2 separate regions of the Homo sapiens genome follow, and region 2 is linked to region 1. Evidence: fine-mapped expression QTL. A gene starts in region 1. The other region holds a variant in brackets. All regions are shown on one strand. Distances are from middle to middle.

Region 1 (4,380 bases):
GGAGGTGCACAAAGTGCATTATGTCCCAGGAGAAGAACCTGGAATTCTCTGTAGCCACAATAAATTTGCAAGACTTCTATTAACATCCACACAAAACTCTCATTTCAGTTAAATCCTCTATAGAAAGACTTACTTGCCGAATGAAAAATCGTTTACCATAGCTTGTTAATAACATATAGATTCTTGGTCTCCAAAAGTGAACAATAGAACAGTGGAGGACAAACTAGAGTTAAGAGTTTTTTTCTGGCTGGGTGTGGTGGCTCACGCCTGTAATCCCAGCACTTTGGGAGGCCAAGGCGGGAGAATCATCTGAGGTCAGGAGTTCAAGACCAACCTGGCCAACATGGCAAAACCCCGTTTCTACTGAAAATACAAAAATTAGCCGGGTGTGGTGGCACGTGCTGTAATCCCAGCTACTTGGGAGGCTGAGGCAGGAGAATCGCTTGCACTCGGGAGGCGGAGGTTGCAGTGAGCCAAGATCGCACCATTGCACTCCAGCCTGGGCAACAAGAGCACCCCAGCCTGGGCGACAGAGTGAGACTCCGTCTTAAGAAAAAAAATTGTGTTTTTTTTTTCCGTCCTGTACTGACTTTCTTTCCAGGGGCTTTACAAAAACCCTGAATCTAGCTAATGCAGAAAGCTAACCTGCTTGAACAATACCACACTTTCAAAGCATTTCTTTTTAAAATTCACGTAAGAAGGTAAGGGAGGACTGGCATATTTCTCCTGAAGTTCAGTACTGAGTATTTATAAACTTAACTATTATTAGGGATCCTTTTGTAGTTAAGCTAATAGTAAGTAATGATGATGGGGAAAAAAAAGAGCTAACTGCTAATAATAACAATTTATAAAGAAGTTACAGTCCTTGAATGCCCACTGAGTGGCAGGTGCTTTTCACAAAGTATCGTATTTACGCTTCACAGCAACATTTTGAATAGAAATTTATTTTTCCTTTTTCTGTTTGAACAACTGAAGTTCATTGAGTTCAGATAACTTGGGGCAGGTCCAACGGACGAGTTGGAAAGACTCTGGGGCCAAAGGCTCACACCACGCCTCTCCTAGCCCCTGAGTTTTGCTACCTGCTTGCGTTTATGTGCAGGCAGGGCGGGTGGGTGGTGGTGGGGGAATCAGATGAAGCTGCCTAAGGAATTAAACATGGAAAGTGGTGGAAAGGCGAAGGAGGTATAAGCGGTGGGCCGCTGGAACCCTAAGAGAGACCAGGCAAGAACCGGGAGAAGGGATGCACCCGTTGGCGGCTCAGAGAACTTAGGTAGAGGCGAGGGGCGGGGCGGGGCGAGGGGCGGGGCCTGAACGAGGCTAGGGCGGGGCCCGAACGAGGCTAGGGCGGGGCCCGAACGAGGCTAGGGCGGGGCCTCGGGGGACAGAGTCGACCATTTGGAGACCTGCCAGAAGAGCCGTCTCTCCAAGGGAATGAAAGGTGAGGGGAGCGTGAGTGCAGGCATGATGGGAATCTCCGTGACTTGGTAAGGCAACTCACCCTTACCTGTCCTACACCCAAGAAAAGCCTCTTCTATGCTCCCCTGGGGTATCTCTCTTGCAGAGTAGGCAGGTCAATGACGAGGAGAGGGTCCTGCCCAGAGCGTGCCCCCCTCCGTCACTTGGTACGGCCCGTGCCCCCGCCGCTGATCTGGCAGGCTGCGCGCGCACACTCCGGCCGGGTGCGGGCCGGCGGGGCACAGCGGCCTCTACGGCCCGCCTCCGTCAGTCATTCCCCGGTCCCTCCTCCCGCTGCTCGCGTGCTCCGGGCCGGCCCAGCACCCTCCGAGTTACGTGCCCGCGCTCCCCGGCGGGGAGGAGCGCAGCCGCGGGGGCGCGCCCCGGTGACTCCGCCCCTCAGCTCCCCTCCCCTGAGCCCGGGAGCCCGGCTCGCGCGGCTAGGTGCGAGGAGACCCGGGACCCCACGCCCGCCCGCCCTGCCCAGCGCCCCAGCCCCGGCGTGCGAGGCGCCGCTCCCTCCTCTGCCCTGCGCGGTGCATGGAGGGGCCCGTTCGGATCGCAGCCGCCGCCACCGTAGCCGCCGCCGCGCGCGCGCGGGGGGATGACCTGGGGGTGGCTTTCCGAGCCGGCTGCAGCGCAGGAGGTCTGGAGGCTTAGCCAGCCCCGCGGAGAGGTGCGGGGGTGGGGGTCCCGCCGCAGGGTCGGAGGGAGGGGTGGCGCGCGGGCACTGGGCTTGGGGGGCCTTGGCTTAGGGGACGGGAGGTCCCGGGGACGGGCGGGCCGGCGTTCCCTGGAGGGCGTGGGGGTGCAGGGCTGCGTGCGGGGTCTGGATGCTGATGCTTGCCCGGCGGGGAGCCCCGGCGTTCCGCGTCCTCGGGGGCTCGGAGGCACCTCGCGGGAGGAGGCGGGGTGAGGTGTCAGTGACACGACGAAACCTCTTCTTGACGATGGTCCTCGGGGGCAGGTGAGATGCCGCAGAGCGGGGAGCTAGGGCGCCCGCGCGTTTTCCCAAGGGAGCCGGGTCCCTGGCCTCTCTCAATCTCCATCCCTGCAGAGCGCCCGCGAGAGACAGTGATTTATGTGTAGGGAGAAGCAAGAGAAATTTCCTGCACAATGTATCTTTCTCTGCCTTCACAAGACTCACTGACTTCCCAGCCCCAGGGAGTGTATTTTTCCTTCTCCTCTGTAAAGCTTTCTGTGGATTGCATTATCATTTGCTAAATACATTACAGCTCGCTATTTATTTCAGTCGGCAGCTTCCAGACCTTTGTTGCTTTCTCTCCACATCTAGGAATTTCAGCAATAAATCACTGAGGGGGATAGATAGACTCTCTTGCCCTTCCCTTCATTGTTCTCCCTAACCCCACCAAATCAGGTGGAAGGCTCTCCAAAAGGAGCTGTTTCCAGAATGCCTGCCCTTCCTCATCAGGACGACAGAGGGTGGCAGGTGCTTTAAGGGCAGACTGCTTTCCAGTGGGAATCCAGAATTTAGAGAACCTCATCAACAGAAAGTCAGCCTTTGTGTCCCAAACCAGACACCTTGAAAAACAGGAGGTTGGACTAAAAGCTCACATGAGATTTATTTTCAGGCCTATGCCAGTAAAGATGAAAGACGCCAAGTCAGTGAATTCTGATTCCTTTCGGCGCTGATAACATAACCCTCAAATTCCCAACTGACACTTGGCATACCTAGTGGACAGTGTCTCCAAGGAGAGGAAGGTGGGGAGGGTGTTAGAAAATGAAATGAGTTTATTGTCAGCATAATTCTAAACATTCTATGACATTTTGTAGTTCTCCCCCACCCTCAGTCTATTTTTAGCTGAAAATTTGGGGATAGTTCAACTTTTAAGATAAGATGAAAGAAAACCTTCAAAAAATTTTCTGGAAATTTTAAATTAGTGCTTAACTAGAAAGCATTCTTTGGAACCCGAGAAGCACCAAATACTGCAGTCTCTGTTATGCACATGTTGGAATGAACTGCCTCATACTTGAAGTTATATGAGAAGGATGGAGAAAACCTGTTTCATTTTGTAAAGACGTGCCCTGGGTGTGTGTTTGGCAGTGTGTAGAACAGAAACATTTATATTTCTATTAAGAAACACACAAATGTATACTGTTTAACTTTCATGCAAAAACTTCCCAGTGTTTGGGAAATCTGTCTTTGTTTGAATAGTTTAGTCAGCCAGGAGAATCAGTTACTAGAGGTACTGTGCTGTTGTTTGTGTAATAACTCACTTGGGATGCTTTGATTGATTGCCATGGTTCTCATCAGCCTCCTCTTCTGTGCAAAGTACTTAAACAGCTCTGACTCTCAAGCCTTCAAGTACAAAGAACCCTTAGGACTTGGATACTGATCTAGCTTGTGTAGCTTGGCTTCTAAATCTAGCTTACGCCTTGCTTTCTTTGCAGGTGGTTTGACTTTGCAGGAAAAGAATTAAGTTCACTTTAAGATAGGACTTTCTCCTCCAGATCGTCAGGGTATATACAGCTGAAGGCAGTAGGTAGGAATAGGAACTAATGTCCTAGGGCTTTGTTCTAAAGAGAGCAGGTAAAAATTTGTTGACTATTTCTTGGGCTTGCTTCTTATTTTCCCACTTCGCCCATCTGCCTTCATGACTTTGTAGACAATTTCATGTATGGTTTTGTCGAAATGTAAGTTGAAGTAAAATTTTCCTTCTGTAGAATTTTTTTTTTTCCACGAACGTTTAGACTAAAAATTGGTGATTGTTTCGAAGTTAAATACTAGGGAAATGATTTCAGGAATTAAATATTATCGTAGTAAAAATCAGGGAAGCGTTAGAAAATAAATAATGAGTTGAAAAATGTGTTGCTTTAACGTGTAATGATATGAGCCAGCGCCTTGTGATCAGCTATGGCATGATGTAGAAGTATGGGTAAGACAATACAGTGGAGCTGTAGATG
Region 2 (4,380 bases), 48 kb before region 1:
GGGTCTGGCGCGGCAGCCATGTGGTGTCAATTTGGCCCTCTCTGCTTCCCCCAGCTCCTGTCTCTCTGTCATGCTGCTTTTGGTCTCCGCCTCTGTCTCCCCGCCGCCTGTCTCTGGGCTTCTCTGTTTTCTTCTTCCAGGAAATAGCTGCCCCTGCATCCCTCGGTGACATAGGTATAGACAGTGTCCAGCTACTGCCACCCTAAGCCTCCCCTTAGTCCACACAGACAGTCTGTGACTAAGGGTGTTCCAGAATGGATGGGAAACTTGTGTGGCAGGGGATAGGCAAGAGATTGGCCTTCAGTGGAGAAAGGGCTCAGCCCGGCTCTGGGCTCATGGTTCAAAATGAGCCCATGCTACCTACTGCTAGGCTGGGGGCTAAAGATCCCTTGAGAAGGTGGGTTTGGGAGACACCAGTGAGGAGAGATGTGGGCTTCTCATCCTGATGTTTCCTGTGTGTGGGAGTGAGGGGTCTCCATCACTCAGATCCTTCCTTCCCTAGGCTTTTGGAGAAGACATAGGTAGAATGGCAGAGAGGGGTCTCAAATTCACAGAAGAGAAGCCAAGGAGAGAGGAGCTTGACAGCTAAGGGGCAGTGAGGTCTCTCGGCATTATGGGCTGCCTGGGGACCTCAAATCCCCAGTCCTTTCTCCCAGGTCTCTGGGATGTGGCAAGGACAGGGTGTGGCAAAGACATGGCCAATGGCAGTGTCCCTCCATGGGGACACCAGGCAACAGGGAGGGTGTTGACAATAATAGCCTGCGAGGGAGCTGTGCCAGCAGCTTGGAAAAAGCACCGCGAGCAGACAGGCGACTCCATGGGAGATGAGGGCATCTTCTGGCCCCTCTCTCCACCCCCAGGTCTGGCTTCCCTTCATTCTGGGAAGCCCAGGACTGGGCAGTTGCCAGCCACTCTGCTTCAAGTTTTCTGCATCCACACTGCAGAGGCCTTCCCAGGCCACCTTCCCAACCTCTACATCTGTCATGTGCTGTTTCTTATCATGCCCAATCCCCAGTCCCCACGCAAGGTAGGCCTGGAAATTGTCATGCAGCCAGAGCCCCAGGCAGGGCTGGCACCCACTGCGGGACTGCTTGGAGGAGAGAGGAGGGGCTAGGGAGGTGGAGTAGGGTCCAGAACCTGCCCTGGCCACAGCTCCTGCAGGCTCAGCTCCAAGGCATGAGGGAGTCTGGAGTGAGACAGGAGAGCTGGGGCGAGGCAGCCATCATGCTGGGCCCTGAGAGGACCGGCCCCGGGGCCAGCAGCCCAGAGGGTGCTGCAAATCAGCCTTCTTTTGGGTCAGCATCATTCCAAGGAGGTCCAATTCTCTGGATGGGACAGGGCATTGGGAAAAGTCAAAGGGCAGCCGCAGTGTGGCTCTGGGGCTCAGTCCCTTGCGTGCAGGGACCCTGTGGGTTCTGGGAGCCACAAGGGCCAAGGGAAGGGACTGCCAAGAATTGGGTGGTGTGGTGGGGCTCGAGTCGTATTGGAAATGCTGGAGTCTGAATGTTTGTGTCTCTCCAGAATTCATGTGTTGAAACAAAATCCCCAGTGTGATGGTATTGGGAGGTGGGGTCCCTGGGAGGTGATTAGGTCATGGAGGCAGAGCCCCTGGGAATGGGGTTAGTGCACTTATGAAACAGGCCCCAGAGAGCTGCCCTGCCTCCCTTACCATGTGAGGATATAGCAAGAGGCCACCATCTATGAACCGGGAAATGGGCCCTCACTAGACACTGAGTCCCTTTCACAGGAGGCTACACAAGCCTGACTGAGCGGGGCTCCATTGGGCTGATGAGGGAAAGGAAGCTCTCCCTCCCAAAGCTCTGGAAGATACTGAAACCCAGGCAAAGAGACAACCCAAGGCTGCTGTGTTGTAGAGGAGAGTCACCAAGGACCCCGGGACCCAGAGTGTGGAGGGCATAGATGCAGGACGCAGGTAGCAAGAGCCAGTGTGCAGCCTTGGATGGTGCCAGAGAGGCCTGTGCATTGGACAGATAGCTGAGAGGGGCAGCAAGCGTTCTGGGCAGGCGTCAGGCAGGCTTTGCTCAGGGAGGCTGGCTTTGACCTACTTGTGCCTGTGGAGCTGGGCATGGAGCTGCCAGTGGGCCAGACTGGGAGAGACATGCCAGGTCACCCCAGCCTCAGGGACAGTCCCTCTTTCCAGTGCCAAGGGTCCAGCCAGAGTCTCCAGCTT[T/G]ACTCAGAGTCTAAGGCAGTAGACGTTAGTCCTCACACTGCTCTGTTACCCAGAATGAGTCAATGACCTTCTATGGGCCTCTGTTTTCTGTTTGACTAATGAGGCTGGGGCGAGAAAGAACTGAGTTGCAGAGGAGGGAGTGGGTGCCCCTAGAGAAGGAGGTGGGCCTTGGAGGCTGAGAAGGGCAGTGAGGTTTGAGACGGCTGCAGAGGGCTCCAGAGACAGGCCTCCAGCTCACACCTCGAGGGCGAAGAGATTCTTCTGGAGTGGAGAGGAAGAGCCTCTGCACCCATCCCCATCCTCCCAGTCCTCCCCACGGAGACCACAACTCAAGACCCAGCTGTCCCCTCCCAGTGACTCAGGCTTTGGCTGCCCTCCTGCCCACATCCAAGCCCTGTCCAGTGCCCCATAACAGGAAGGGCTGTGGTGTGAGAGAGGAGGAGGGAAGGCTGCCCCGCCAAGGGCCTTCATGTCCAAGGAGCCATCTAGGTGGAGGAGTCCTTTGCACCCTCCTGGCCGTGTCACCCTCTGCCACCTCAGAAATGTGGGTTTGGCCTGAGGTGGGACTCTGTCCTCCTCCCTCTGCACTGAGCATGGAAGGCCACTTGTTTCTCATTAGCAAACTGCAGGATGTCACCACCATAGGGTGGATGTGCATTTTTGTCCTCTTTGCTGGAACGGTGGGGTGTGTGGGCTGAGCCAGGGACAGGGCAGAGGCGGTCAGAAGAGCTGACCAGAGCCTTGTGGGACCCAGGGCAGGGGCTGTGGTTATATGGGGCAAAGCTATTTGGAGGCCACAGGACACCACTGTCCCTGCTAGAACCAAGGGCAGCTATGCTAAGATTTGGAGAAGAGGGAAAGGCAGAACCAATGGCACTGTGGTTGTGATTTTTGGCAATAATTGTGGGCATTGATAATCATAACGGTAGCATTCATTTATTGAGGACCAGCCAGTGCTAGGTGGTTCATATATATTATTTCTTTAATTCTCTCAATAACTCTGTTTTACAGATGAGAAAACTGAGGCTCAAAAGGGTAAATAAATGACCTAGTTTTCACAGCAATTAAGCATTCAAACCAAGATCTGCACCCAGGTTGTCTGATATTTATGACTTTTCTTTCATTATGCCACATTGCCTCCTCTAGCCCAGTTGTTTTTTTTTTGTTTTTTTTTTTTTTTTTTTGAGACAGTCTCACTCTGTCCCCAGGCTGGAGTGCAGTAGCGCAATCTCAGCTCACTGCAACCTCTGCCTCCTGGGCTCAAGCGATTCTCCTGCCTCAGCCTCTTGTGTAGCTGGGATTACAGGCACCTGCCACTACATTCAGCTAATTTTTGTTTTTTCAGTAGAGACAGGGTATTTTTTGTAATTTTGTATTTTCAGCATGTTGGCCAGGCTGGTTTCAAACTCCTAACCTCAGGAGATTTACTTGTCTTGGCCTCCCAAAGTGCTGGGATTATAGGCATGAGCCACTGGGCCTGGCCTCTAGCCCGGTTCTTCATCTTTTTGTGCCATGGATGCAGTCCGAAGTCCATGGGCCCCTTCCTAGAATAATTAAAAAAAATAGATTAGATTTACAAAGGAACCCAATTATATTAAAATGTGGTTATCAAAACATTAAACACATGTGTGATATAGTAATATATGTGCTTTTTAACTAACACATGAAATAACAAGATTTCTGCCAGGCACGGTGGCTCACGCCTGTAATTCCAGCACTTTGGGAGGCCAAGGCGGGTGGATCACCTGAGGTCAGGAGTTCAAGACCAGCCTGGCCAACATGGGGAAACCCTGTCTCTACTAAAAATATGAAAATTAGCTGGGCGTGGTGGCAGGCACCTATAACCCCAGCTACTCGGGAGGCTGAGGCAGGAGAATTGCTTGAATCCGGTGGGCGGAGGTTGCAGTGAGCCAAGATTGTACCACTGCACTCCAGCCTGGGCGAAAGAGAAAAATTCTGTCTCAAAAAGAAAAAAAAAAAAAAGAAAGAAAGAAATAAGATCTAATAACTACCATAATTTCAAAATAGTGATGAATGTAAATACTATTTTGTATTATCAGCAAAAGCTGTAATGTGATTTTTCTTAACCTTTCTTTTTTTATTGTTATACTTTTTTCTGGGGTACATGTGCAGAACGTGCAGGTTTATTACATAGGTATACACGTGCCATGGTGGTTTGCTGCACCCAT

Alleles and levels. Alleles are on the strand shown, and positions count from the first base shown. SD is a standard deviation of normalised expression in the study named.
For the expression in fibroblasts of the gene that starts at base 1,844 in region 1, T is the low allele of the variant in region 2 and G is the other (small effect, 0.15 SD a copy in GTEx).

The links. PIP is the estimated chance that this variant, and not a neighbour inherited with it, causes the effect. A credible set is the group of variants that fine-mapping cannot tell apart.
Region 2: its variant is the best candidate, but not a certain one, in a credible set for the expression of CDON in fibroblasts (GTEx, PIP 0.53).

What each region holds. Positions count from the first base shown.
Region 1 is chr11:126,060,330-126,064,709 of GRCh38, reverse strand. It overlaps CDON (cell adhesion associated, oncogene regulated), which reads left to right and starts at 1,844. Exons shown (of 20, transcript NM_001378964.1): 1 at 1,844-2,131. RefSeq lists silencers at 1,257-1,346, 1,417-2,086 and an enhancer at 4,287-4,380.
Region 2 is chr11:126,108,292-126,112,671 of GRCh38, reverse strand. No RefSeq gene overlaps it. Among named protein-coding and RNA genes, the nearest start is that of CDON, 48 kb to the right of the region's middle. The variant T/G (reference allele first, on the strand shown) is at 2,192.